Linked DNA regions of Homo sapiens. The protein of the gene in region 2 purifies or fractionates together with the protein of the main gene of each other region. This does not show direct contact. Each region holds a gene or a part of one and is shown on either strand. Other genes may lie near its edges.

Region 1 (15,554 bases), on a different chromosome or scaffold from region 2:
GCCCAGCTAATTTTTTTATTTTTTAATTTTTTTGTAGAGACTGGGTCTCTACAAAACAAATGTCTCTGTGTTGCCCAGGCTGGTCTCAAACTCCTGTGCTCAAGCAATCCTCCTGCCTCGGCCTCCCGAAGTGCTGGTATTCCAGGCTGGTCCCATTTTACCAGCAGGTCTACACATGTGCTCACATCGCTCACTCAGAGGAGACCTCCGTTATTAGGGGGACCTAGACCTGTGCTGCCTTGACCCCAGGGACAGAGGTTGTTTGGGAATCCCCTCCCTTACTTTGATTTCTTCCGAGGAAGCCGGCTTCCTGGTGACGGGAGGTCACTGTTCTGGGGAAAAAGAGTGGGAAAAACAAAGCCAATCAGCCACTTGGCTAAGTGTCAGGTTTCCCAACAACTTCATGGGTTGCTGTGGATGGGCGGGGCTGTTTTGAGCCCAGACCATCCCTTTGCCTGTGGGTGTGGGACCACGTGATTTTGGATCAGGGGTCATTTGTCCTTCCAGAAGCCAAGCCCTGTTCCAGGCATGGGGGTGCAGCAGTGAGTGAGACCCACAGAACCACTGCCCTCCTGGAACACACCCCCCCCAGAGAGGGAACTGGGGCACCACAGACCCGTGTGCAGGCAGCAAGGGCGTGGTGTCGGCCGGGGAGCAGCAGGGACCCCTGAGCCCCACAGTCGGGGCTCATGGCGCTGAGAAGCACTGCAGCAAGGGCGCAGCCAGTAGGAGAGGAGCCGCAAGCGCAAGCATCCGCAGACAGTGTGAGCTCAGCGTGCTGGGAAGGCGGGGGCCTGGGTCAAGGGCCAGGCGGCAGAGCATAGGGGCCTGAGGGGGCAGTGCCTAGGAGTGGGAGGAAAGAGCATGGGACCAGATTCACTTTGGAAATAGAAGCCCCCAACCAGCAGCCAGCCAGGTGGAGGAAGGCGTGCAGAGCTGAGAGGGTTCAGGAGGCGGTGGGGGGAGCCACTGGGAGGGGACCCAGGGGTTCAGGTGAAAGACAGCAGTGGCTCAGCCCAAGGGTGGCAGCCAGAGATGTGGGTGGACGGCTGGATATTGGCAGCCATACTCATTATCAATGCTGCTGTAACAGCTCATCACAAACCCTGCAGCTTCCAACTGCCCAGAGTGAGATCTCCTGGTTCTTGTGGGTCAGGCATTGGGGCAGAGCAGGGCTGGGTCTGCTGTTTTGGGACCCCTGAGCTGCAGTCGAGGTTCTTGCCGGGACTGGGCTCACCTTGGAAACCTCTGGTAGGAAAGGATCCACTTCCAGGCTCCCTCGTTCGTTTGAAGGACTCCTTTCTTTGGGCTGTTGGGCTGAGGGCTCAGCTTCTCGCCAGCTGTCGGCCCGAGGCTGCCCTCAGTTCCTGCCCCAAGGGCCTCTCCAACACCACAGCTTGCTTCATCAGAGCCAGGAGGGACAGTCTCTAGCAAGACAGAAGTGACAGTCTTGCCATTACCTTTGCCGTGTTCTGCTGGTTAGAAGCGACTTGCTAGGTGCAGCCCACACTCCAGGACAGGGGCTGCCCAAGGGCAGGAATCCCAGGAGCTGCGGACATCAGTGGCATCTGAGAAGCTGCCTGACTTAGGAGCTCAATGGCAGCACCAGGAAGCTGCACTGGGCTGGAGTCAGGGCAAGGGACAGTGTCAGCGATGACCCTGGGGGACAGCAGTGCAGTCAGGAGCTCAGAAAGTACACAGATGCCCCCTGGGCGGTCTCTTCTGCACCATGTGGGCAGCAGAAACTACACCTACGGTTTCAGAACAACAGTTGGGGTGGTGTGGAAGGACCTCCACGACATATAAGGTGGGAGTGTGGAGTGATGGAGTGTGGAAACCCTTCTCACAGTTGTCACCTGCTCTCCAGCCCCTCCTGAGCCCGTGGACCTGCCTGCCTGCCGTGTGTCTGTCTGTCGTCTGTCTGTCTGTCTCTCTGCTGAGGGGCTCCCCGATGCCCTGAACCCAGACAGCCTCCTCAGCCTTTGTGATCCCAGAGTCTCCCGGCCAAACCTGGTTGATCTTTTTTAACCACCACCCTCTTCCCCTCCCTTATTTTGCTTTTCTTCCAGAATTTTCCCACTGTAAAAAACCGAGCAAGTCTGGATAAGTGAGGCTGGCTCCATGTATCCAGAATCAACGACGGGCTCCCCGGCTCGGCTCTCGCTGCGGCAGACGGGCTCCCCCGGGATGATCTACAGGTGACCCCCTGCCCCCTCACCCAGGCCCCCTCCCAGGGTCAGTCCTGCTTCGAGGACGGGTTCCCAAGGCCACTGTCCTCCCCTCTGGAGGTGGAAGGGCCCAAGCAGGGCCCACAGGCTTCTGCCTTCCACGGGGTTTTGAGGTGCACGCTGGTGAGCGTTTTCTCCAAGAAAGGAGCAGGGGCTTTAAAAACCCAAGTGGGAAAGAAAAACCAAAACTTTTCCAGGGCGTTTGAGCCAGAGTAGACTCCTTTCTTGTCCCTGACCCTTCCGAAATATCTCGTTTGAGGTTAACAGAGCGGCCGGACAGTGAGTGCACGGCCAACCCCGGCATCCTGTTCCTCCCACTTTATACATCGCAGCCCCTGTGGCCCTGCCAGTTTCTCCTGAGCGAGGATGACGACCTTGCAGGCCTTTGGGGAACCACGTCTGCCGGTTTCCCAACACTGGAGGGAGTGGGGGCGGCCAAATGCTCCTGGGGCATCCTGACCCCCTCCTTGTGGAACTCACTTCCGCTTGCAGCCCTGGGTGTTTCTGTCTGCACCATAAACAGCGCTGAACATCAGCGACAGCTGCGGAGGGCGTTCAGTGAGAGCTGAGCCTCTGGGGACAGAGCATAGAACCCACGAAAGACGCAGGCACAGGCAGTACCCCAGCAGCCCATCAGTCTTGGGAAGCCAGACCTTTCCGGATAATCACTGGGGCCTGAGCCAGAGCCCGTGTCTGTGACAGCCACAGGGAAAGGCAGTGTCTGTCCTAAGAAGAGCCAGGCGGGCAGGTGCGGGTTTGCCAGCACGCGGGTGCTCTGCACGTCTGGGTTGGAGGGTTTTCAGCCATTGCCCACAAGCATATTGCAAAGCAAGTCCTGAAGCACATTCAATCCAAACCAACCCTCACTCGGAGGTTCACCACGGAAAACAGGGCCTGGCATGGAAGGAGCCCTTGGTGTCCAGGAAACTGGCTCCGGGTCTCTGCCCCGTGGCCACCGGGTGGCGCTGCTGCAGAGCACTTGGCACCGGCTGCGCTTCCTCAGAGACTGCCCTGAGCAGGCGACTGGTGGGGGCCCGGGGGCATGGGACATTGGTGGTTCTTTCTGACCTGCACCTGCTGGGGTTGATGCCAACTGTGGACTCTCTCTCTTCTCTCCCTTTCTCCTTTTTCTCTTTTCTCCATTGCTGTCCGAAGTACTCGGTATGGGAGTCCCAAAAGACAGCTCCAGTTTTACAGGTAATGAGTCTTCATTCTCCCTAAAACCCAGCGAGCCGAAGGCCAGGGAGCGGGTGGGAGGACTGCACCCTTGCCGAGCAGGGTGTGCTGGTGTATTCTCTGAAGCCAAAGCCCCCGAGACCCCCAGGCTCTGCTCATCACCCTCTGTGCCTACCCACAGGATGCTGTGCAATGTCCTGATGGAAAATGTGAAGTCAGGTTAATTGTATGTGTTGGTCTGCCAGAAGTTTGCTTTGATTTGAGCAAATGGGCTTTTGATGACTGCCAAGCTCTCAGCCAAATCTACCGTTAAAGCTTCACTCATCAGGCAGTGAGGGAGATGTCTTCCTGTGGTCACCAGCTTGCCCTGCTTCCATTATCAGAGTACAGGACGTGGCGAGCCCATCCGTTCCCCCTTTGCCTGTGGGTTTGACCTGATCTGGAACTCACAGAGCTCCTCAGGCTCATTGAAGGTTAATGCCTGCTTGGGGGTGTGCAGTACTGATACGACGTGGATCAGTGACATCTTTCTGATATGTTTTTCTGTTGGTGAATTAACAAACCGGGCACCTGGCGAGAGACTGTGCCCCAGCAGGATGTGACATCAAGATGCCAGGCTTAGGGCCCTGCAGGGTGCTCTTGGGGAGACCCGTTCCTCTCTCTGGGCTGCCTCTCCCTCACCTGTAAGGCAGGGGATGCATGTTCTTGGTGCAGCCTCCAACCCTAGGAAGTAAAATGTCAGGGCTGCCTGGAGCCCATGGGCAGCAGCCTCCCCATGCCTTGGGACTGTTTGGGGAATTGGCACGGCTTCTGGCAGCAGGTCCCTGGTATGCATTGCTGCATCTTGGCGGTCAGGCCGGGAGGTCTCTCTATTCGGACCCGGACATCTGGTAACAGTGCTTTGGGGATCGTTGCCAATGTGCCAGGCAGTGGTCATGGAGGTGGCAATGTATTTCCATGTAGCTTTTCTCTCCCCGCGCCCCCACTCCCCACCCCCCCCCCCGTTTGCCAGCCATAGCACCTCTGATGGGGACCGTGGACCTAGATGCTCAGAGTGATCTGTGCCACGCCTTCAGTGCCTCCTCGGAGGTCCTGCTCCTTACAGGGAGCTCTGAAGACATGGCCAACTCTTAGATCCTACTGAAATTTTGGTAGATAAGATTTTGCTTAAGATAGTTAAATCTGAACTCCGGCTTGCAAATGCTTTCCCTGGATGAAATGTTTGTATTGTGATGTATGTACACATGGTATAACAGATCCTAACAAACATATGCCGCTCATCCCAGGGGATTTCATCAGTGAAACAAAACATGTACCTGAACTGCATCCTCAGAGAGCCGGGAGCAGCCTCAGTCCTCAGAAGGGAAGGGGTGAGGTCTGATGAGCAGGCAGGAAAATCCCAGGTGCAGACCTGCCAGCTCAAAAGGGCTGCCCACAGGTACAGACCATCCAGCTCCAAGGGCCTGCCCCTAGGAGGGGCCAAGTAAATTATCCAGTGACCAAGTGAGAGCCTTCCAGCCCACTCAAGGCCCTCAAAACCCCACAGGCTCAACATGTTGTCCCCCCCGCCGGGATCCCTGTGCTTAAGAACCTTCATTTCCAGGTGGCCTTCCTGGCCCCAAGGGAAGCTCTGAAGCTTACCCTCTAGGCTCTCAGCCCCAATTCTGGTGCCCACAGGCTCTGGCCATCCTACCCGTTGGATCTCCAGGGGGTCACTTGGGTGTCTCTTGTGGGGGCTCTGGAGATGACCTCTAAGGGCTAGGGTCTTTGTTTGTTAACAGGCTGGGGGCCACTCCTAGTAGGGCACCCTCATCACACCAAGCATACCACTAAACATGGCTATTGGATGGTTCTTTCAGTTACTTAGGCCTGGCCCTCTCACAGGGCAGAGGCGTTCAAGGCATGTGCCCTGCCCCCATGCAGCTCCCAGGCAAGGAATTGGCATAGGACACTGTGCCAATCAGCTGTCCACCAAGTGCTGCATAACAAACAACTCCAAAACTCAGTGCCACGCAGCAATCAGCATCTCTTCCTTGCTCCCGTGTCTGCGGGTTGACCAGGCAGCTCGTCTAAGCTGGCTTGGCTGGGTTTGTCTCCAAGCTGCAAGTTGGATCCCCATGTCCTCCATCTTCCCATGCTTAACTGGGGCCTACCCCAGGCATGTCCTTCCCATGGCAAAAGTACCAGAGGAAAAGCAGAAACATGCAGGGTCTCTTACGGCCTATGGTTGGGGTCAGAGCGCTGTCACCTCTGCTCACGTGCTTTTGGCCAAAGTAAGTCTCAGGAACCAGCCCACAGTCAAGGGGCTGGAAATATATTGCCCCCACCAGTGGGAGGAGCTATAAAGTCACATGGCAAAGGGCATGGGTACAGAGAGGGGTGAAGGATTGGGAGCAATACTTCCATGTACCCCAGGTCTCAAATAGCCCTGATGATCTCCAGAAGGCAGAGCACGTCACAGGAGAAGCCCAAAGAGCATTTGGGGTCCAAGGAAGGAGGGGCCACAGCCAGCTGAGAGCCAAGAAGACTTCACGGAGAAGGCAGCAGGGGCTTGGATCTGGTCCTTGAAGGCTGGGCAGGATTCAACGCAGAGGCTGGGAAGCATATTCCAGTAGATACAACAGCCTGAGCCACAGCTCAGAGGTGTGCACAGAGAACAGGAAGTGACAGTTACCCAGCCTGGGCCATCAGGGACATGATGGAGAATAAAGAGAGGCTGGCTGTAGAGGTGGATGTTGGTGGGGGGCCTCGAATGCCTAGCGATGGGGCACAGATGCACTCAGAGGGCACTGGGGAGCCATCTATGGTGTTTGAGCAGGGCAGGGGTCAGAGATCTGCTCTAGGAAGGAAGCCTGGTAGCAGGGAGTAAGACAGGGAAGAGAGAGGCTAATGCAAGGAGACCAGACAGTGCCCAGGAAAGGTGCAGGACGGCTGAGCTCCAGGAACTGCACAGAGAGAGAATGAAGGGGTGCAGGGCCTGAAAAAAGGACGTCAGAAGCCACGTCCACAGGGCTTGGCCACTGATGGGCAGGTGCTGAGACAGAAAGGGACAGAGAGGAGCAGTGGACCCAGGGAAGGAGAGGGCCTCATTCGGAGCATGTTAGGCTGCAGCTACCACCCAGTAGTGAGGCGCAGGCCCCCCGACCAGGGCGACATGTGGGGATCTGACAGAGTGGGCTTGGGCCTTTGGGGACAAACCATTTCAATTGCCAAGGCCTTCGCAGCTAGTCACCCGCAGCCAGGCACCTCCAGACTCTACGTGCTCTCCCAGCCTCCCACTTCATTTACCTTCCACACTGCGACTGGGGCACTGATTTCCTGTCCCCCACCTTCCCCCATGGCAGCTACCACTGTTTGCTCATTCATCATGGGGGGACGGTTCTGCCTCCATTCAAAATCCCACATTCACTGGCGCGCTTTCTCAGCCGGAAGATGATGTCACGCTGGGACTTTGCTGGCATCCTGTGACACGCAGTGACCCTGGGGGTCATGACCCTGGGGTTGGGGCTCAGCACTTAGCCTCATCCCAGAGCTCAGCCTTGTTTGGCCTAGTCTCAAAGCATTTCCCAAACCCCAGGTCAGGACATGTGCCGTGGAGAAGGGCTCCTGTGTCCCTGCCTGGAGTGAGTGGCAGTGTGGAGTCCAAATAGCAGGTTCTGGGGCCTTCCTGCCATTTATAGCTACCGGTAGTATCAGATATACCCATCTCGGGTGTATCCCCAGAGGACAGGAGGAGCATGCGCGTGTGCTGAGCAGAGGCCTCTCCAGACCCCCTTGGCTGTGGGTGGTGGCCCCATACGACGGGGCCCCCAGCTCCCCTGCTGCAGACACAGTTCAGAGTTGAGTGGTATGCGGAAGCCACAGGCTCTGTGTCCCGCACTCAGATACCAAAGAGCAAGGCCTGCCCCTTTCGACCTGTGGGTCCAAAGGTTTGTGTTTCTGGCACGCGGGGATGGTGGAGGCAGCAAGGGTAGGCCTGAGGGACGGGCAGGACCTCCCCCTCACCTTGGGCTGCACCCCAACCCCACGCACCGGGAGTCAGCCTTGCCAGGTTGCAGCACGGAACTGCACTTCCCGAGCTTTTAGGGGAAGAGGCACTCGTGAATAATTCAGCCTCTTTCACTGAGATGAAAACGCCCTAATAGAACTAATGGACTCGCTGCCTCAAAACTCGACTCTGGTGGGACTCATCTCATTCACCAATTGCTTCTGACGTCCTGCAGTGACACTCCCTAATGAAAAAGCCGCTGTGCCAGATCCTTAGAGTGTCTGGTGATCCCTAATAAACCAGACTGTGGCCTTTTTAACGAGCAGACGCCCCCACGAAGGCAGGTGAGTCCTCCCTTCAGCCGCTACCTTCCTAGTGGAGATGCCGCTTGGGGGCACGCATCCGCGGGAATGAAAAATAACAGAGGAGACCATATTTTGGGGTGGTTTTGTCTGATCCGGAATTAGACCCTCCGTGTTTTTGCAAAGCAGAAGACCTTAAAAAAGAGCCAGCCTGAGGTAAACTTGGAATGACCGTGATGGATGGGGTGGTGGGCGGCAGGTTTCAGCCGGGCAGCACCTCTCGCTTGAGTCTGCTCACAGCCCAGACCTGCCCAAGGCTGACTGTTTTCCCATCTGCCGGAGACACGGGCGTCTAGCTCGTACCTCGCTGTGTTCACCATTGATTAAGATTCAGCATTTTCCAGTTTTGCCCAGAGCGCTGTCAGGGAGGTTTGGTCTTGTCTGAAATGTCTGTGCAGGAAGCACGTGCTGAGGGAGCCAGGGGCTGCTTGTTTGGGCCTCAGTTTGCTGATTGTCCTTGAGCGAAAATCATTCTGTGTTTGCACTGAAGCAATGCCGTGTCTTGTAGAGCCGCACCCCGGAATGGTAGCAGCTCCCCTTCCATTTCCGCTTTGGAGAACTCTGGCTGGGCTCTCTGCTCTCTGGACAGGTGTCACCATTCAGAAGAGATGCTCAGGGTTCCTTCTCAATCTCAGGTTGTATGCTTTGTTGGCTTTCAGTAAACAGAACAATTCAGAAATTCCAGGTAGAGGAGTCTGGGGTGAGGTAGTGATTCCTACTGACTTAATGAGGTTAACATCTTCCTTGCATTTTTCCATGTCACGGTGTTAATTCACGTGAATTCCCCTGGGCCCCTGATCTACAGGAATAGATTTGCACCAGGCAGGCCCAGCCCAGGAAAGAACTTGTGGGTTCCACGTAATTAGCAATGGCTATTGAGGAGGGGCTCGTTTTTCTTGGTACCAGGGTGGTGAGGGAGTGTCAGGGCTCAGAGACCCTCACTCTGGAAAGCGGCCGGGATTTGGGATATTTTGAATTGGAAGTCAGGGGTCACTGTGCTCTTGAGCACAGGAGAAGTGGGGACCCTGAGGCAGGAGCCCGGCAGTGGGGCCACTCTCTCCTCCCTGCAGTGTCTTACCGGGGGGCCCTTCGTCCAAGGACCTGACGCTGCTAGAGTCTCGGCAAAAGCCCAGAATAGAGCCCCAGTGTGAGGGAGTCCAGAGGTGTCCTCTGTCCCCAGGCACCGCTGGTAACGGGCAGAGCCTCTTTGCCTTCTGCCTGTACCTATCCTTCTTCCCCTGGGGCAGCCCTCCCAGAGTCATGAGCCTTCAGGACCACAGGGAGCCCCCGCTGTACAGAGTCCTGGCATGGGAGTCCCCCCCACACAAGAGAGGGTGACCTGCAAAGAGCTGCTGGGTCTGAGGTAGGAAGCCAGCCCCGCCCCCACCAACAGCTGCCTGGCACTGCCAGGAAATGCCCAGGTATAGCCCTGGTTGGCCTTTTGGAGCCTGGGCCTTGGTTACTGTTCTACAAATATCTGAGCCCCTCCTCTGTGCACGGGACACTCCCGTGGGCACTGGTCAGGGGGCAGTGGCAGCAGGCAGAAGAGTCCTTGCCCTCCTGGACCCAACCTTCAGGGGAGTCCAGCGGCCATGGGCTCCTCATGGCACCAGCCCTGCTCCTCACCCCACCACCCCATGCCAAAGGCTGCCATTTCTGTGCCCGCAAGTTCCCTGGCCCAAGCCCTGCCCTGGCACCATGGGGACAAGCTCGTAGCAAGAGGCTCTGGGCTCCCTCCGTGCCGCAGGGCTCCCACCTGCAGGTCTGCTCCCAGGGCTGCAACATGAGCTCTAAGGAAAGATTGCAAGCGGGCCCCCACAGGGAGGGACGCCCTCTAAATCCTGGCCACAAAACCCATTCTGTCCTGCCCTCTCTCCCCTCTCCCACTCACATCCCCAAACTCAGCCTTCCACCATCTTGTTGTGAAGGGGGCGATTATTCACATCTGTGTTCTCTTCCCTTAAGCATTTTCTAGGGAGATTTGGTGTCTGTGTGGCTCACTCCTCTCACTCAAACCTGTGGTCACAAGTTCCTTCCCGCCCTGCCTGCTGGCCCCTGGTGGTGGATTTTTCTTTCCACAGCATTTATCATAATTGGTGTCTTATCCCACGCCCCCCAACAGACTGTCTTCTGGCTGCGTCACCAACTCCCACCCAGTTGTCCAAAGCCTCATCTCATGCAGCCCACAGCAGCCTGGTACAACAGGCCTCTGCCCAGCCTACCTCACAGATGTGGAGGCTGAGGCCGGGAGCGGTCAAGGTGCCTGCCTGGGCCACACCATGAGCAGGTGACAAGCAGAGCTGCCCCTGTCCAGAAGCTGGGCACTCAGCCACCCCGTCCTCCAGCCCCGGGGCCTTGGCTATATTTCTAGAGCCAAACCAGACCCGGATTGCTTTTTGTGAGTAATGTCTTGAAAGCTAATGGCTATTGATCTCAGCCTGGTCGGGCCAGGCAGGGAACTTGCGTGTCTGAGGCTGGTCCTGCCTTTCAGAAAGAGCCCTGGGGCTACAGCCTGCCCAGCTGGCCTTCTTTCTAAACACAGACCTCAGGGAAGTGAGGGTTGGCCCCCATTTGCCCCACACCGGACTGGCAGCTAGCCACATGGCCACCTCAGAAGCAGCTGCCTGCCACGCGCATGGAGGGAAGGGAGTGGCCGGCCAGTAGGCAGGGAAGGGAAGCTGGTGCTGCTGTCTGTGGGTGCCAAGGGCCTCATTTCCTAAGGTGAACCTCTCCTGGAGTCCGGGCCTCTCTGCCCTCCAGAGCGATTCTCCTGGAAGGCAGACGGCTTTCCATGCCAGGGTACCCGCCTGCTTTAGCGTCCAGAGGTCCAGCAGCCACCACCCCTCCCAGCATAGAAATGAGCAGTGGTGAATGCAACTCCTGGCATGGGAACCCCCCAGCAAGAGAGGACGACCTGCAAAGAGCCACTGGGCCTGAGGCAGGAAGCCAGCCCCGCCCCCACCAACAGCTGCCTGGCACTGCCAGGAAATGCCCAGGTATAGCCCTGGTTGGCCTTTTGGAGCCTGGGCCTTGGTTGCTGTTCTACAAGTATCTGAGTCCCTCCTCTGTACACGAGGGGCACTCCCATGGGCACTGAGCAGGGGGCAGTGGCAGTGGCAGGAGGCAGAAGGGTCCCTGCCCTCCTGGACTCAACCTTCAGGGGAGTGAATTCAGCACACAGGACAGCTAGAAAGGAATCAGCAAGGTGGATGATGGCGAGCGCCATGGAGACAGATCACAGCAGGAAAGAGGCACATGGTGTGGTTTGTGTGGGACAGAGGGTAGGATGGGAAACGCAGCCCCCCCACCCCCGGGAGCCATGCCCATCAGACAGAGGTGCAGAGGTGCAGACAGCACAGCAGGCTCCCCAAGGACGACTGGTTGCTCGCCTTTAGGGAGGGGGCCATCCAGCCCTGACCAGGGTGGTGGGGCCAAGGCCTGTGTGGACACTGCTACCCAGCTCCCTGTAGGGGCTCCTCGGGGGCTCCTTGCCTGCTGGTCTCTCTTTAGCTCTTCTCTGAGCCCACCTTCCCTACCTCAATTGCATGTTCATGCAACAGGCATTTGTAGGCTCTGCTCTGAGCTAGGCCTCATGCTGGGCACAACAGGGCAGACATGAATGAAGGTCCCTGCAAATAAGATACAGACGAATACTTGCAGGGAAACCCCCATGAAAGAGGCAGCTGTGGGGCTCCTGGAGGTGGCCCCCCTCTCTGGGTGCACATATAGGCAGAGCAGTGAAAGGTCAGCAGGCTGGTCACCCATTCTGGAAGGACCCCAGCACATGGGGCTCATCACAAACTCCTGCCCCTTGTGGGTCTTTCCTTTGGCCCCTGGAGCTCACCCCAGGAAAGGCCCAGCCTGGGGCAACTCCAGGACATCTCAACCCCCTTCAAGGACCGTGCTAAAGCCTCTGTAGCTGCCTCAGCTCCCAGGATAGCCCTCCCAGCTCCTTCCCAGGGATAATCGAACTTTTCCTCTCTTGGGGCAGAAGGTGGGGACAGTGCTGGTTCCTTTCCAGCTCCCAGGCCAGGTTCCAGGATCCCACTGTGCAGCTGACCCAGCTGAAATGGTGACTTCCCCTCTGCACCTTCTCTCTCTGGTGATGATGCAGAGCTGCAGTGCAGGCCACCTGGGCCATGGCCGAGGCTGCAGTCAGGTGGGGTGAGGGTCACTGGACTGGGGACCTCCTTTGTGTTGAGCCTGCCTCCATGTCCTCATTGCGCTGTCACAGACTCTGCAGGGTGAGGACTCAGCCCCGAGGCTGCCCTCACTGGTCCACTCACTGTTGTGCACATGAATTAACACCAGTGGTTGCGTTCTGGACACACGCTTTCTCCCTTGGCCTTTTAATTGTCCACTATCTCTCAGGGCTCACTCACTCACTATGTTGAGATGCCTCATTCTTGACAGCAGCACAAATTCCCACTATGTGGATGGACTGTCACTTAGGTAACCAGTTTCCCTACTGATGGACATTTACATTGCTTTTAGTTTCCAAGAATGTGCATTCATCATTTCAGCTATATTTCAGTGGTTCTTCACATAGAAACTTTGAAACTCCCCTGTCCCAACTAAGCCTATTTCCCCAGGCCACTCTCCTCCGCAACCTGCTTAAATGCATTCTGCTCAGTTTTTCTTTTGCAAAAAGCATGAAGCCCAAAGATCTCTGCGGTGCAATGATGCGTTCAACAAGCAGGGAATGTGTTGTATAGATAGCATTTCCCTTTACAAGGCTAAGAGCAAATAGGACCTTCCCATGTTGGGGCCACCTGGCATGCGGGGGTGAGGTGCCTCCCTGGCATAATTACAGGAGAGTTTACTTCAGCAACAGGTGTGCCCTGCGCTGCTTTCCCAGGGACAGCTTTTGACCCAGTTTTACCCTGGGAACCACCTCAAGAGACCACCATGACATGGTACCGCAGTCACCACGGAACAGCAACCCTGGTCTTCAGCATTTGGGGGGCTCAGGCTCTGCATGCTCTCTGTGCTCCCGTTTTCATTTGGACACTTGGGGTGCAGCTGTCCTGCCTGGAATGCAGCTTTGCCTGTGCTTGTCTCACAGATGCAGGGGACAGAAAAGGGCAGCTTAGCCAGAGTTCCTGGCAAGCACTGCTTTGCGGACTGAGAATCTCATGCCAAGAGGTGTTTACATCCAGGGGCCGGGTCCCACTCCTAGACACCAAGACCTGGTGGTGGCACTAGTTAAAGGATGTTTCGCTGCAGCTGCCCCCTGCCCCAGGGCCAGCCATCCAGCCTGGGGCACGTGGGGCATTGGCACACTGTCTAACTCATCACCGTCTGGACAGTGGCAGCTCCCAAGCCAGGCGGCACCATGCTGTCCATGACGTACAGCGAGAGTCTGCGGAGCGTGAGCAGCAGGTGCCACTCTGAATGGGCCCTGCACCCCGTCCGCCAGACGGACACGCTGGAACTGCAGCGGCTGCGGGAGGTGCGGGCGGCTGCCCAGGCCAGGAACATGGAGAGCTTCCTCCGCATGCACGGCCTTTCCCTGGACGGCTGCACCGCCCAGCGCACAGGCATGAAGTATCGGTAAGGGCCGGGCAGGGGGGCGGTGGGGTGGGAAGTCTGATTTCAGCCATATAAATATGTATAAAAGGGCTGGGCACGGTGGTTCACACCTGTAATCCCAGCACTTGGGGAGGCAGAGGCGGGTGGATCACCTGAGATCAGGAGCTCGAGACCAGCCTGGCCAACCTGGTGAAACACCACCTACTAAAAATACAAAAAATAGCCAGGCATAGTGGGGCGCACCTGTAGTCCCAACTACTCAGGAGGCTGAGGCAGAAGAATTGCTTGAACTCAGGAGGCAGAGATTGCAGTGATCCAAGATCATACCACTGCACTCCAGCCTGGGCGACAAGAGTGAGACACTGTCTCAACAACAACAACAAAAATGTATAAAGGAAGAAAATGAGGCCAGGCACGGTGGCTCATGCCTGTAATACCAGCACTTTGGGAGGCCGAGGTGGGTGGATTGCTTGAGCCCAGAAGTCTGAGACCAGCCTAGGCAACATGGCAAAACCCCATCTCTACCCCAAAATACAAAGAAATTAGGTAGGCATGGTGCCATGCACCTGTAGTCCCAGCTACTTGGGAGGCTGAGGTGGGAGGATTACCTGAGCCCAAAGAATCTGATGCTGCAGTGAGCCGTGATCGCACCACTGCACTCCAGGCTGGGTGACAGAGCGAGACTCCATTGCGCAAAAAAAAAAAAAAAGTTTAGTAAATTCTCCATGGGGTAAAAATGTGTGGGTGTGTTTCTCCATGGGGAAAAATGTGTTTCTGGGTGTTGGAGACCCCTGCTCTTAATGATAGGCACGTAGGTCTGAATTTTCTTGGAACCTCCAAAGGACATTCTTTTTAGTGCGCTTGTCTTTGAATTCAGCACCTCGGACAGCGCTCTGCTAGCCACCGTTCTCTGGCTGGTGTAAATCCCTCTCAATTGCAAATTGACAGCTTTATCTTCTGTGCCTCTCAGGAACATGCCCTTGTGAGAGCCATTCAGCCAAAGAGGACCCTCCCCACCCAGTCCTTGTAGAGTTGCCAGTTAAATTTGAAGTTCAGATAAACGCGTAACTTTTTAGCATAAATACGTTCCATGCAATATTTGGGTCATACTTATACTAAAAAGTTCCTCATTGTTTATCTGAACTTCAAATTTAACTGGGCGTCCTGTGTTTTATCTGGCAACACTAAATATCTGGCTTCCGTCTGAGACAGACCCTAGGGATCATCTGCGTGCTCTGTGCAGAGTGGAGTGCAGGCCAGGACCGCTCCTTTAACGTTTTCTCCTGTGGACGGCGTGTTTGGTCCTTCAGCCCATTGTTTGAATATGTGGTTGTAATTTAGAAACAAAACACTTCTCCTGTGAGTCCATTAGATGGCAGTGTTTTTCAGGCTTTGTATCCTAAATCCAGCTGTAAAGGAAGGACAAAGGGTCCGCTAGTTTGGCCACAGCTGACCTCCTTGTTCTGCTGGAAATTTCTCAAGAAGGAGACGCTGGGCATTCATGAGGGGCTGGTCATTGATTCCTTTTGTTTATTCAGTAAATGTTTATTGAGAGTCTGCTTGGCACCAGGCGCTGAGCCAGATCCTGGAGCTGCTGCATGAACAAGAGCAACCAGGTCCCCAACCTCACGGCAGCCATGGCCTGGGGGTGTGGGGGGCAGAGAAGCAGCGAGCTTGCACGGAGACAAGTTCCAACAGCGACCACTGGCCGAGGCAGCAAAGCAGGACAATGCAATGAAGAAAGACCAGGGAGGCCGAGGGGGAACCCTCTGAGAGAGGGATCATCTGAAGATGTGGAGAACATTCCAGCCCAAGAGGAGAGGGGTCTGGAATGGATGCCTCTCTCAGCTGGAGGAGCGAAGAGAAGGCCCAGGCGGCTAGGCTGGAGGGAGGAAGGTGGAGGACACAAGGCGATGATGCAGGAGGGGCCAGACCCCATCCTCCAAACTCAGGGAAACCTCAGCTCTCTCCTATGTGGACAGGATTTGTGATGGAGGATAGTTTAGTGGGTTAAATCAAGACCCCCCAAAATTCACATTCATCCTAAACCTCAGAATATGACGTTAGGCTGGGTGTGGTGGCTCACGCCCGTAGTCTCAGCACTTTAGGAGGCAGCCTGGGTAACATGGCGAAACCCCATCTCTAAATACAATCAAAAAATTAGCCAGGCATGGTGACACATGCCTGTGGTCCCAGCTACACAGGCGGCTGATGCAGGAGGATCACTTGAACCCAGGATTTCAACGCTGCAGTGAGCCCTATTTGTGC
Region 2 (15,670 bases):
GGGCATTACGTAAAGATAAAGGGTACAATCCAACAAGAAGCCTTAACTATCATACATATATAAGCACCCAGTCTGGAGCCCACTGTTTAATTAAGCAAGTTCTTGGTCTAAGAAAAGACTTAGCAACCCCACACTAATAGGGGAGACTTCAATACCCCACTGACAGTGTTAGACAGATTATCAAGGGAGAAAACCGACAAAGAAACTCTGGAAAAAGTCAACTCTTCACCAGTTGGACCTAATAGTCATCTACAGAACACTCCACCCAGCAACCACAGAATATATATTTTTCTCATCTGCACATGGAACATGTTCTAAGGTTGACCACATGCTCAGTCGTAAAGCCAGTCTCAATAAATTCAAAGAATTGAAATCACACCATGCACACTCTCAGACTATGTGCAATAAAACCAGAAATCATTATCAAGATAATCTCTCAACACCACTGAAATACATGGAGGTTAAACAACTTGCTCCTGAATAACTCCTGAGTAAACATTGAAATTAAGGCAGAAATAAAAAAAATCTTTGAAATTAATGAAAATAGGGACACAACTTAGCAAAATCCCTGGGATGCAGCCAATGCATTGTTAAGAGGAAAGTTTATAGCCCTAAGTGCCTTCATCAAGAAGTTAGAAATATTTCAAATCAACAGACTAGCTCTACACCTAAAGGAAGTGAAAAAAAGAGAATAAACTAGACTCAAATCTAGCAGAAGAAAAGAAGAGCTAAATTAGAGAAGAGCTTAATGAAATTGAGATGCAAAAATACAAACAAAACAAACATCAATGAAACCAAGAGTTGGTTGTTCAAAATAAAAAAAAAAAGATTGATTGACTACCAGCTAGACTAACAAAGAAAAAGAGAAGATCCAAAAAAGCATAACCAGAAATAACGGAGGCAATATTACAACTACAGAAATACAAAATACAAAAATACAGAAATACAAAAGATCCTCAGAGACTACTATGCACAACTCTTTGCACACAAATTAGAATATCTAAAGGAAATGGATAAATTCGTGGAAACGCACAATTTCCTGAGATTGAATTAGGAAGATATTGAAACCCCGAACAGACCAATATCAGCTTCTGAAATTGAATGAGTAATAAAGAACATACCAAGAAAATAAAAGACCTGAACCAGATGGTTTCACAGCCAAATTCTGCCAGATGTGCAAAGAAGAACTGATTCCAATCCTACTGAAACTATTAAAAAAATTGAGAAGAATCTCCTCACTCATTCTGTGAAGCACAATCAGCCTGATACCAAAATCTGGCACAGACACAACAGAAATAAAAAGGTTCAGGCCAATATTACTGATGAACATAGATGTAAAAATTCTCAACGAAATATTAGCAAACCGTACCCAGCAGCACATCGAAAAGTTCATACACCACAATCAAGTAGGAAATACATGCAAAAATCAATAAATGTGATTCACCACATAAATACAATTAAAAGCAAAATCTATGTGATTATCTCAATACATGCAGAAAAAGCATGAGATAAAATGTAACATCACTTTATGACAAAAACCCTTAACAGATTAGGTATTGAAGGAAAATACCTCAAAATAATAACAGCCATCTATGACAAACACACAGCCAACATTATACTTAATGGGCAAAAGTTCAAACCATTCCCCTTGAAAACTGGAACAAGACAAAGATTCCCCACTCTCACCATGTCTATTTAACATAGCATTGGAAGTCCTAGCCAGAGGAATCAAACAAGAGAAAAAAAAAAAAGGCACCCAAATAGGAAAAGAAGTAATCAAACTATCTGTGTTCACTGATGATATAATTCTATGCCTAGAAAATCCTATAAGCTCTGCCAAAAGGCTCCTAGAACTCATAAGTGACTTTAGTAAGGTTTCACGATACAAAATCAACGTATAAAAATAAGTCACATTTCTATACATCAACAATGTCCAGGATGAGAGTGAAAGCAAGAACACAATTCCACTTACAATAGCCACAAAAGAAATGAAATACCTAGTAATACAGCTAATCAGGGAGGTAAAAGTGCTGTACGAGGAGACTATAAACCCTGCTGAAAGAAATCAAAGATGACATAAATAAATGGAAAAACATTCCATGCTCATGGATTGGAAGAATTAATATCATAAAACAGCCATACTGCCAAAAGCAATCTACAAATTAAACACTATTCCTATCAAACTACCAATGTCATGCTTCACAGAATTAGAAAAAACAACAGCAACAACAACAACAAAAACAAAAACTTCTAAAATTCACATGGAACCAAGAAAGAGCCCGAATAGCCAAAGCAATCCTAAGCAAAAAGAACAAAGCTGGAGGCATCACACCACCCAACTTCAAACTATACTATAAAGCTACAGTAACCAAAATAATATAGTACTAGTACAAAAACAGACACATAGACTAATGGAACAGAAAAGAAAACTCAGAAATATGCCACATACCTACAACCATTTGACTCTTGCCAAGGCTGACAAAAACAAGCAATGGGGAAAGGACTCTCTATTCAATAAATTGTCCTGGGATAGCTGGCCAGCCATATGCCAAAGACTGAAGCTGGACCCCTTTCACCATATACAAAAATTAACTAAACATGGATCACAGATTTAAATGTAAGACTTCAAACTATAAAATTACTAGAAGACAACCTAGGAAACACTCTTCTTGACATTGGCCCTGGCAAGAAATTTTTGGCTAAGTTCCCAAAAGCAATTTCAATAAAAACAAAAATGGAAAAGTGGGACATAATTAAACTAAAAAGGTTCTGCACAGCAAAAGAAGCTATTAACAGGGTAAATAGACAACCTACAGAATGGGAGAAGATATTTGCAAATTATGCGTCCAATAAAGGCTTAATATCTAGAATCTATAGGGAACATAAAGAAATCAACAAGCAAGAAACAAATAACCTCATTAAAAAATGGGCAAAGTATATGAGCAGATACTCCTCAAAAGAAGACAGACAAGCAGCCAAGAAACATAAAAAAATTCTCAGCATCTCTAATCATCAGAAAAATGCAAATCAAAATCACAATGAGATACCATTTTACACCAGTCAGAATGGCTATTAGTAAAAGGTCAAAAAAAACAACAGATGTTGGACAGTCTGTGAAGAAAAGAGAATGTTTATACATTGTTGGTGGGAATGTAAATTAGTACAGCCACTGTGGAAAGCAGTCTGGAGATTTCTCAGAGAACTTAAAATAGAGCTACCATTCGACTCAGCAATACCATTACTGGCATATACCCAAGGGAAAATAAATCATTCTACCAAAAGGACACATACACCCATATGTTCACTGATGCAGTATTCACAATAGCAAATACATGGAATCAATCCAGGTGCTCTTCAGTGGTAGATTGGATAAAGAAAATGTGGTACATATATACCATGGAATGCTGTACAGCCATAAAAAAGAATGGAATAATGTCCTTTGCAGCAACATGGAGATGGTTGGAGGCCATAATCCTAAGTGAGTTAATGCAAGAGTAGAAAACCAAATACTGCATGTTCTTACTTAGAAGTGGAAGCTAAACATTGAGCACACATGGACATAAATATGAGAACAACAGACACTGCAGGCTACTACAGTGGGGAGGGAGGGAAGGGAGCATGGATTGAAAAACTACCTATTGAGTACTGTGATCACTACCTAGGTGACAGGATTTGTACCCCAAACCTCAGCGTCATTCCATATCCCCAGGTAACAAAGCTGCATATGTGCCTTGGTATCTAATATAAAAGTTGAAATTATAAAAAAGAATAAGCCTCTTAAGAAAAAAGTCCCCCTTTACATTCCATCTCGCCTAAACCATGGTCCTCAAACAATGTTGTGCATCAAATCACCTGGAAGGCTTGTTACAGCACAAATAGCTGTAGAGTTTCTGATTCAGTAGGACTAGGATGACGCCTGGAACTTGCATTTCTAATGACTTCCTAGGTGATGCTGATGCTGCTGGTTCAAAGTCACACTTTAAGAACCAATGGCCCTTATGTGTCTTCTTTAGTTTCACCGGGACTTGACCTGATTAACAATATTAGATTGCCTCTTCATTCTAATCACATTAGTTGCAGGATGCTAATTATTTTAATAAATGCTAAATTTGCACATAAATATGCAGATAAAAGGTCATGCTTTAATCTTTACATTTTGAATGAGTTATAAGCCATAATTAAGATCCCTTTGACCACATTTTCATAATAATTTTGTTAACTATGAAACTGAATTATTTAGAACTTGCTTATCTTATTGGCAGATTTTTCACATCCTAATAGCGATTTTAATATGTCATTTCATCTGTCACTACATTGATGCAAAAAGTAAGCATTTGTGAACTTTGAGAATAAACCTATGTACTATAAAATTCTATGTCAATTTTAACAGCATATGACCCTTCGATTAAATTAAAACCCTTTATTTTTTATATACTATATCATTACAGCTGGGAAAGACCTAATGGCTTATATTTTTGGTTCTGGTTTCATTCCCAGTTTGCCTAATAGGCTGCTATGGAGCCTGCATCTTTGGTTTCTAGTTGCTTTGTCAGTAGTAAAAATAGATTTGATCCATATCCTCTCTCCTGCTCCTTTTGGTGACCCACAGCATGGGAATTTCATATAACAGGTGACCGTGCTTTGTGTTCACTCTGTGGCCACAGGTCAAAACTAAGTCACAGATTACATACTGAACCCCTTAGTATTCTTCTTCATCTTAGACGATTTTCCTTCTCCAAAATAAACTCAAAGGGTATTTACCCACTGTAAGATATGATTTTACACCCTATTCTTTCTACCATATAAAGCCTCATGAAGCATGGGATAAGGCAATTTTCAAAAAGATCTGATAATATAAATATACATTAGTTATGAAAGACACTTCTCTTGGGGGTGTAGAAAATAAACTGGACTAATTGCAAATCTAGCAAAGAAATACTCAAAGGGATTAACTTACTTGAAGAAAAATGGCAATGGCCTTCCAGAAGCTCAAGAATCCCTTTGTCCAATCTCTCGTACATTAGGGAATTGTCCTTATATAATTGACATTAAACAAAAGTCTTTTGGAAAAATGTGTTGGTAAAGTATATTGAGAAGATGAGGGTGGGTAATATTAATGAAATACAGTTTATCATTGAACAATATGGGGGTTAGAGGTACCGACCCACCGTGTAAAACTTTCGACTCCCCCAAAACTTAACAACTAGTAGCCTACTGTTGACTGGAAGCCTTACCAATAACAAAATCAACTTACACATATTTTATATGTTACATGTGTTATATACTGTATTCTTACAATAAAGCAAGCTAGAAAAAAGAAAATGTTATTAAGAAAATCATAAGGAAGGGAAAATATATTTACTATTCATAAAGTGTAAGTGGTACATCAAAACTCTTCATCCTTGTCATCTTCACATTGTGTAGAATAAGGAGCAGGAGGAAGAGGAGAAGTTGGTTTTGCTGTCTCAGGGGTGGAAGAATCTAAAGAAAATCTACATATAAGTGGACCCTTTTTTTTGTTCAAAGGTCAACTGTGCCTACTATATGCCAGGTGTTTAAGCGATGATATATCCTTTGTCCTCACAGTCACTCCTCAGGGTAGGGATGAATATTTCTCTTTGTCTTGGTTTGAGTTTCACCAAAAGGAGACTGAGAGGCAAGCATTCAAATGCAAGGAGTTTATTTGGGAGGTGAAGGGAGCACCAATGAGGAGTAGGGAAGTCTGATTAGAAGGGAAGGCAGCCAGGCCGGGCACGGTGGCTCATGCCTGTAATCCCAGCACTTTGGGAGGCTGAGTTGGGCGGATCACGAGGTCAAGAGATCAAGACCATCCTGGCCAACATGGTGAAACCCCATCTCTACTAAAAACACAAAAATCAGCTGGGTGTGGTGGCATGAGCCTGTAATCCCAGCTACTCGGGAGGCTGAGGCAGGAGAATTGCTTGAACCTGGGAGGCGGAGGTTGCAGTGAGCCGAGATTGCGCCACTTCACTCCAGTCTGGTGACGGCGTGAGACTCCATCTCAAAACAAAAAACAAACAAAAAAGGAACATAGCCAACACAGCATAGATTATCAACCAGCTCACACTGTGGATAACTGAAACCTGCAATGTAGAACATAATCCTAGGAGTAATCCCACCAGAAGAATGAACTTTCTTGGGCTTGTGATTGAGGGCTGTTCCACAGGGTATGGAACTATACTATTTGGCATGCTATGTTTATGAAAAAAGCAGGCTCCAAGTTCAAGAGCAAGTTCTCCTACAGGTGTAGGTGGTTGGAATGTAGATAGTGAACAACTGGCAAGCAGCTTTAAGTGGCGGCTCCTAGATTGAAACTCAGGTCTAACTGTAGTTAAAATCATTGCTTTCTCAAGCATATCCTACTAATGTGAATCTTCCCCAGGTGTTCCATGATTGAGTGAAATTATAGACTGAGACCACAGGTCTTTTGGAATAGCACTTCCCTATACCCTCTCCAGGGCAAGATAAGACTCTAAGAATTAGTGGTAGGCCATGTGCAGTGGCTCACACCTGCAATCCCAGCACTCTGGGAGGCCGAGGTGGTTGGATCACTTGAGGTCAGGAGTTTGAGACCAGCCTGGCCAATATAGTGAAACCCCATCTTTACTAAATAAAAATACAAAAATTAGCCAGGCGTGGTGGACATGCCTGTAGTCCCAGTTACTTGGGAGGCTGAGGCAGAATAATCTCTTGAACCTGGGAGGTAGAGGCTGCAATGAGCCGAGATCACACCACTGCACTCCAGCCTGGGAGACAGAGAAAGACTCCATCTCAAAAAGAAAAAAAAAAAGAATTAATGGTAAACCTAAATGCCCATTAAGAGACAAATGGATAAGGGAAATGTATAGATATACACACAATGAAATATTATTCAGCCTTATAAGAGAAGGGAATCCTGTCATTTGCAGTAGAACCCAGAGAACATTATGCTAAGTGAAATAAGCCAGGCACAAAAGGGAAATTATTGCATTATTTCACTTATAGGTGGGATTTTGTTTTAAAAAAGACTTCAAATGCACAGAGCTAGAGAATGAAACAGTGAATACCACTAGTGGGAAGCAGGGAAGAGGAAAAGGGGTGATATAGGTCAAAGGATACAAAATAGTAGACACGTAGGATACATAAATCTACAACAGGGTCCCTAACCTTTTCGGCACCAGGGACAAGTTTTGTGGAATACAATTTTTCCATGGGCAGTGGGGGTAGGTGGATGGTTTTGGAATGAAACTGTTCCACCTCAGATCATCAGGCATTAGATTCTCATAAGGAGTGGCGCAACCTAGATCCCTCGCATGTGCAGTTCACAATAGGAGGCGGAGCTCAGTCTGTAAAGCTTGCTCACCGGCTGCTCACCTCCTGCTGTGCAGCTTGGTTCCTAACAGGCCACGGACCAGTACCAGTCCATGCTGGGGAGTTTGGGACCCCTGGTCTAGAGAGCAAACGTGCAAAATGAGGACTAAAGTTAATAAAATTGTATCATATTAGGAATTTTTGTTAAATAAGTTGATTTTAGCTGTTCTTGTCATACACACAAAAAAGTAATTACGGGTGAGATGATACATATATTATATTGGCCTCCCTACTGTAACCATTTTTCTGTGTATATGTATCTCATAATATCATGTTGTAAACCTCAAATATACAGAATGAATAAAACAATTAGCTGTCAATTTGGCCTTAATGTTCCATGTTAAAGCCAAATGTCTATGTTTGTAATCAGCTAAATTTTATATTGTGCAGAAGCCCTGAATTTCACGGATGCCCCATATTTCATGGATGCCCCGTTCAGTTCATAAGCTCTTGTTTACATGATTTGTGCATGATCCAAATGTGGAAAGAAAATGAGTGGGCAGCCTATTCTGGGTATCAAGCAAAGAGCACAGGCACAGACCATGTGCAATAAGCAGCCTTAGGCAAAACTGAACCAAGAGTGGTTTCATACAGGTATTCCTCTAAGTCTTTAATTTTTTACTTATTCCTTTCCCCTTTTTAATGTGATAGACACCTAATCACCTTCTGCTGCCTTCCCAACCTCAACTTTGGTGTTCTTTGGCAGATAGTGACTTCGGTGTTCTTTGGCAGATAGCCTACAAATGAAATTTCAAAGGCTAAGCATATAATGTTTGCTCACTTGATGTAAGCAACAGAGAACTAAATCTGAACTTTGGCAAAAGTCTATTAATAATTGACAAATAACAGAACAGTGAGGATGTAGAAAGCAATACATTAAAAAAAAAAAAACAACGAACTCCATCTGGGATAGCAATAACCTGTGAAAATGCTCCCCCGGCTAATTTGTATCAATGATTATGAACAACATGCTAAATCAGTACTTCCAAAGTCTATATATGACTATTACAGGTCTGGGGCAAATGATGAAGAAACTTTGGCTGATAATATTGCAGCATTTTCCAGGTAAGAAAATTTATTTTTTAAAATCATGTTTTAAAATTACACAAAGACCGTACCAAAATAAGATCTCCTAGTTTTACGTTGGTGGTGTGTAATTATTTGTTCAGATTTGTGCTTAGTAGAGAGGGAAAAGTTCTTGGGGCTGTAAGAAATCTTGGGCCTTTAAATTGTTAAAAAATATTCCAAGCCTGTGAATCTTGAGGAACTGACTGCAAAAGCCAAACCTATGTTACTTCACTTGGAAATATGACAACAATTAATTTAACTACATGTAAAAATAGCGATAAATTCGGATGACTTTTCTTTTTCTTAGTATGACAGTAAATGCTTATGTTCATGGTGTAGGAAACAGCATTAAATGCCAGATAACCATCTTATCCGGATGAACCAGACTGGATTGTTGGCTCAAATGTTTTCTTCCTGCTGGCTTTTCGTGTTATCATTCATTTTGATTACTGTTGTCTAAACTTTCACTTTAGATTTCAATTTGTCTATGCAGCATTAATCTTTCAACTTTGCTGTTTCATCTCTCCTTCAAAGCACTTCATCTCTCTTCCCAAATTAGTTTTCCTTTGACTTTCATATTTCAAAGCACAAGATGGTGGGTGACATGGTTTATGTTTTCTGTTTGTAATAAAAACAAGAAATAAAATCATTTCAAAGGGTTTTTTTTTATAGCAGTTACAAAAATGGTTTATTTGCTGGAGCAAGAGAGGAGTGCCTTCACTACACTACACTCAGTCTCATCCATCTAACATTATGGCTGTTAGTAAAGGCAATCGGTATTGTGGGTACTCATTGATGGTGATAAAGACAAAAAGGCAGAAAATATGCAGGGGGAGAGAATTAGCCTTCCTCCCTGATTTCTTCTTTAGTCTACAACAAAATCACTCAAAATCAGTTTTCCATATTTAAATTAGGAGAAATAAAATTATCCTGGCCAAGGTGGTCTCTGGTAGGCAGCACTGATTCACCCACAAATCCATGTAGAAGACTGAAAATGGCAATGGGGTGAAGGATACGGCCTCTCCCCAACCCTTTCAAGCCTTGACTTTGTCTCAGGTTTTGCCTGGAACCCAAATGAGCTCAACAAATGCCAGGGAAGTCATGGGAAGGGAAGTTGACTGAGAGTAGAGGGGCTTAAAATTCTGCATCATTATTTACTATTTTGGACTCATTTAAAAGTTTCTGCTCTTGGAAGATGCCCCTTCTTGGGCCGATATTAACTTTGTCCACCAAAATTTGCCTATGAGTGGTCTCTTGAAAACACTTTAACCCAAATAGGTTATTACAACCAAGGAAATTTCAGACCCTTGACAGATTTATAGAGTTAGTGTCTCAGCATTGCTAGACCTCCAATGCTCAAGTGATTATTTATTTCATTTGTATACAGCTTTCCTTACTTCTTAATTCCCTTTGTCGCATGCTAGCTAATTAACTAGAGCTAATTAGGAGTCTCCATGAGCTACACTGTGTACTACATGCTGAGGACAAAGCAGTGAGCCAGACAAAGTTCCTGTCCCTAGGAACTTACATTCCCCTGGATGCATATCAGCCTCCATAATGCTGTTGGGTTGAATTGATGCAAAATGGGCCCAAAATAGTTGGCCAAGTGGAGGTCTCAGAGAGGATGCAAAGGGGCGCCCCAAAGCAGATGGATCACCTATGCAACCCTTTAAAATGTAGAAACTTTGGGAGACATAGAAGGCTTGGTGACTTCTAAGTTATGAACTGGAAAAGTGCCTCATGCCTTATGTGAATTACATGGTATTCAAGTGAGTATTCCCATCCTATGTGTGTACCGAGTAACTTAGGGATAGGACACAGATAATGAAAATGAATTTGCAGTGTCACCTTTTCCATGAACCTTGATCATTCTCTTTTGTTCAGCTTTAAATTAAAAAAAAAAATCAATCAACTTTCTTTGGAGGACAGCTGATGCTATTTTATTATCAACTAGTTGAGTTTTTATTGCAATACATTTTGCAATGTGTCCTCTTTTGCTGTATGACTCGCTAGGTGAACCTTGATTCCTCACACTGCATCATGTAGCTGGTCACGTGAAACTAAGAATAGAAATTCTGCCAGGGTTGTGGAGACTTTGGGTTGATGGCATGAAGGAAATCAACCTGAAATTTCACATTCTGATTCTAATGAAAAGTGCAAAACAATCAAACCTCAGATAACCCATTGTGATACAAAGCCAGAGTATTTCAAACACATTTATGAAATTTATACACCTCCCCATCTCGCAAGTACAACAAAAGGTCATTCACCGTGACAGCTTTTATTTCTCTGTACTCAGCTCTGATAATCACATTTTGGAGTTCTGGGGACATGGACCACTCATGTGACCCAGCAGTTGCTTGGAGATATTTTTGGGTAAGACTTCAGACTAATATTACTGTGGCAGTAGAAAAAAATGTTTAAAAGGACAAGTAAATGGAACCACCCAGAACAAAATTTCTTACGGTGGTTATAACAAAACAGGGTAAATGTCAACTTGCTACATTTTGCATGGCTGGAATTGATTGGGATTAATTCAACGAAGAACAGTAATTTGTTTCTCTTACACATTTATTCAAAGTAGCCTTCTCAACTATGGTCTTCACGTTGTTGTAGCTTTTTTTTCTGAAATTATCAATGATGGAAGATGATTAAACAATTTCGACACTTAGAAGCCCTCATGATTTCAGAAAAGGAAACTCTTTTCTGCTGCGTTACCTATTGAGACTGAAGATGGCATCATTTTCTTTTAAATAACAGATGGGTAAAAGTGATGTCATTCTTTCACTTTAATATTTGAGAAGTGATATGAAGTTACCAGTGACATTGTGTTCTCATAGGCATAAATGTCACAAAATAATTTATCTAGTATCCACAATAGGTGAATAAGGTGTTTTTGCTTTATATATTTTAACTGTTTAGAGTAAAAAATTAATGTGGAGAAAATTGGAATGCAGTATTATAGGATTACACAACTTACAAAACATGAATCCACTATGTCCAGTTAGTGTGATTCAGAAACAGCATGCAGTTATAAAGCTGGGTGAGGCATGGGTGTCTTCCTTCAACAGGGCAGCTACTTTGTGAGGAGTGTATATATCATTTGATTTTTTTATAAGTTAAATTTGAGGCCCCTGTTAGATGTGAGGGTGGGCCAAAATTCCTGTGAACAGATTCTCCCCGTTACCCCGCTTCCTTTACTCTGGCATCTCATTTTCTATCCTTTGAAAACGGTTTATTATTCAATTGGTTCAACTGTTTGCCAGTTGAACCAATTCTTTTTCCAAAGTGGAGGCCCAGGAAAGCACAGTCCGAGAATATAGTGAGGTGCTATTTTATGTATGATTGTGGGAAATTTACTTAAATTTGGAGTGGGGTTGGGCAAGGCTTGGAAAGCTAGTGAGCTATCTGACATAGTTGTTACTACTATTTGAAAAATATCAAAACATGGAGGACTCTTTAGATAACATGCCTGTTCCCATTCCATTGATTTTATCTAATTTTACGTAGCAATTACGTTTTGTGCATTGGTTGACAAGCCTCTGTATTATCCTCAGAACAGAAAATACTGTTTAAGGGAAATTAAGAGCCCGCAGTTACTAAAGTGACTGCGCCACCAAGTGGACAAGTGTAAAGCCACTGTCTGGAGATGGAAGGATTCAGCTTTGCTTTATAAATGGGAATTTGACCTTTAAAAATGTCCCTTTTGGCACGCACGCGCGCGCGCGCGCGCGAACACACACACACACACACACACACACACACACACACACACACACGGCTGCTGCCCTGCAGATTTGCTTGTTCTTGTCATAAAGCTTTCATTGTTTCTCTAGCTCTAAGTAAATATTAATGCCTTCCAAGGCTGGCATGCCAATGGCTGCTATTAAGATCGTTTTCTCTCATTCTAATAACACACTTAGAGATGATTGGTAATAAAAACTCTCTTCAAGGCTTCTGCTTCTCCCCCTTCAAAATGGAGATCAAAGAATCATGCTGTGAGGGTCCGTCAAGAAGAAAAGACTTTCAGCAACAGAGCATGTGGTGTGGCATAAAATAATGACAATTATAATGTTCAAAGGAATAGCATAGAAATCACACAGTAAAACTTCTTTATTATGCTTTTCAGGGACTGGATGTTTTTACTTTATTATGTGAGGAAGGGTTAGATTACAGACCCTTAGCTATTCCACAAAGCAATAGAAGGCAGAATTTCTTCTTCCGCTACAGGAAGCACGCTTCGATTAAGGGCTTTTTCTTTTTCTTCTTTTTTTTTCTTTAAGTTACTGCATTACTATATCATACTTCACTATATTTACTAAAAAGTCATGCTGTTTCTGGAAGTAGAGTTACATCTAGGAAATACTAGGTGAATGCTGGTTAGATATGCATGTGTGCCTAAACAACACGTTTATTATACTCATGCATACTAGAAATAGGGCTGTATTTTCTTCAATTTTAATCAGTACTAATGAGAATAATAAATCAAAACAAATAGGAGAGATATATTTTGCCAGGAGGAAAGAGAACTAGTTCTTCTGTAAATTTTACTGGTGAATTTTTGGTTGCTGGTTTATTGGTAATTTTCATTCCAACACAGAAGAATCACAGAAACATTCATTTAAAATAATTTTCCGGAGTCAAAAACTTTTTAACACCCAAATTTCAGTTTTTGTCAAATAACATTTTTGAGAAAAGTGTTAAATTAAACTAATAAAAAACCTTCCCTCATCATTAGACTTTAATGAATATGGCATATAACTAAATAATTTTGAAGAAACCAAATTATAATTTTAAAAGTAATTGCCTGAAGCTGCTGTTTATCACATAAAAAGAAGACAAACTAGACATAGCATATCTTCTTAAACTCTAATCTAAACTCTATGCATTTGTATACCATCTTGATTTTCAAGATTGGGGAAGTGAAACGAAAACTATGTTCACACAAGAACCTGTACGTGAATGTTTGTAGTGGCTTTATTTAGAATTTCCCCCCAAACTGTAAGTATTCAAAATGTCTTTTAGCTTGGGAATGACTGGACAAATGATAGTACCCCTGTATGATGGAATATTATTCATCAACCAAAAGGAACAAACTATTGACACGTACAACAACATGAGAAAATCTCTAATGCGTTATGTTAAGTGAAAGAAGCCAAACTCAAAAGGCTACATACTGAATGATTTTGTTTACATGATATTCTTGCAAAGCAAAATTATCAGGACAAAGAAAAAATGCATCAGTGGTTGTCAGGGGATTGAACTGGGGAGAGTTTCTCTGCAAAAGAAAATGGGGACTTTTTTGGGAATGATTGAACTTTTTCTAGATCTTGATTGTCATGGCAGTTACACCACTGTATGCATTTGTCAAAATTCACAAAACTGCAGACTAAAATGAGTGAATACTATTATGTATTAGTTATACTTTAATAAATAATTGCTTGGGAAATTCATTATCCTCTAATTGTTAACTTTCTAACCAAACAAACAGTAAAATTGCCTCTTTTCCATTAGCTTTATGAAGTCATTTGCTTGTTTGGAAAAAATCCAATTATATTTTTTCTTTTAACTAAAATGTAATGTCAAAGTTTTGGTTATGATTCTGAAACTCTAAAGCCTTTTATTTTATTTTATTTTTTAATTCTAGATGGAAGCTGTATCCAAGGATGCTCCGGAATGTTGCTGAAACAGATCTGTCGACTTCTGTTTTAGGACAGAGGGTCAGCATGCCAATATGTGTGGGGGCTACGGCCATGCAGCGCATGGCTCATGTGGACGGCGAGCTTGCCACTGTGAGAGGTAGGAGGAAGATTGTCACCACAGGGACAGAAGGAGGCTAACGTTTATCGACCTCCTTCTCTGAATGCACCAAGCAAATATGTTCCTTGATGTTTTTACACTCAGAAACATTAAGCTCATGGACTCTATCATCAAAATACTTGTTCTTGCATGTCCTGCTCCTCTTCTTTCCAGCTGTGTGACTGGGCAAGATATCCTCTCTCTGCATTGGTTTCCTTGGCTGTAAAATAGGGACAAAAATTGTACCTGCCTCATTGGGTTATGGTGAGAATTGAATGAGTTCAGGTATACAAAGTTCATGGCAGAGAGTAGGGGCTCAGTAACTGTTGGTTATATTATGGGTATTAATAGTACTGTCTCAGGAAATGGATCTCTGACAGGTAGACTTGCCCAAAGTCACAGCTAGGTAGTTACAGAATTGGAATTCAGCCCTGTGGCTACCTTATCTCAAAACCCTCCTGCTTCCCCCAAACCAAAGTGGTTCTCACAGCCAAATTGCAAATGGAGCAACGTGGTTGGTTGTGTTTTCTTCCGTGGTTTTGGGTCATGATTCTTTTTTATGGATGAGTTATATTCCCAATAGAGCAGTTCCAGCTGTCTTAGGAGGGAGTGATGAGAAAATCAAATATGATGTAAAGAAATCTCTTATTAGGGCTAATTTATTAACTTTCCAGTTCTCTAGCAACTGTGAACATTTGAAAGGCTGTGCAGAGTAAAAAATCTCCCCAAATTGTGCTCCAGAAACTAATATAAAAGTTGGAAATGAATTATTTTGATGCTAAGCAGAGCAGAAAAAGAACACGACTATATAATATTTTAAAACATTTTAGTTTTAAGAATTAAGGATCTTGTGAATTCACTTCCCTTCTTGAAATGTCTGACATAAAATTCTGTCAGGGATATCAGAATGGCACAATGAGGTTTTGCTGGACAGACTTAGCAGCTTCCTTAATTCTAGGACCACATACAAATAAGTGGCTTTGGGGCCTCAGCCTTTTGTCTATGGTAATCCTGAAACATAAGTAGAGAGAAGAAAAAAAAAGGGAAATACTAAATGGGTAAATATCTATACAAAATCAAGATAATAAAGGCCCTTTCAGGCTTGAAACTATAGGCAACAACCTTAGAACAAAAGAAAACAAATGAACATCAAAAAACTAAAACTTTAGTGCTCTTAAATCTCAATGAAAATAAAAAGTAAATGGTAAACTGAAAGAAATGGAAAAAAAATATGAGACTGTGAAGGGTTAATGTCCTTTCCACGTAAAAAGCCCTTATATTTGAAGAAGAAAATAATATATTGCTCAAAGGGAAAAAGAGAAATAAGTGAACAAAAGATATAAATAGGAAATTTACAAATGGAGACATAAAAGTGACCAATAAACATATGAAAAATATTCAATTTCATTAATAAGCAAAGACATGGAAATTA

Evidence for each region.
Region 1: the proteins of HAO1 (region 2) and KCNAB2 purify together in Homo sapiens (affinity purification with mass spectrometry; 3 studies listed by BioGRID and IntAct, with this or other methods). This does not show direct contact.

What each region holds. Positions count from the first base shown.
Region 1 is NC_000001.11:6,038,448-6,054,001, forward strand, and holds the start of KCNAB2 (voltage-gated potassium channel subunit beta-2), read left to right. Parts: upstream 1-7,440; 5' UTR 7,441-7,736; intron 7,737-13,063; 5' UTR 13,064-13,089; coding exon 13,090-13,307; intron 13,308-15,554.
Region 2 is NC_000020.11:7,933,052-7,948,721, reverse strand, and holds the start of HAO1 (2-Hydroxyacid oxidase 1), read left to right. Parts: upstream 1-8,263; 5' UTR 8,264-8,299; coding exon 8,300-8,436; intron 8,437-14,086; coding exon 14,087-14,238; intron 14,239-15,670. UniProt on the Homo sapiens protein: Broad substrate specificity (S)-2-hydroxy-acid oxidase that preferentially oxidizes glycolate.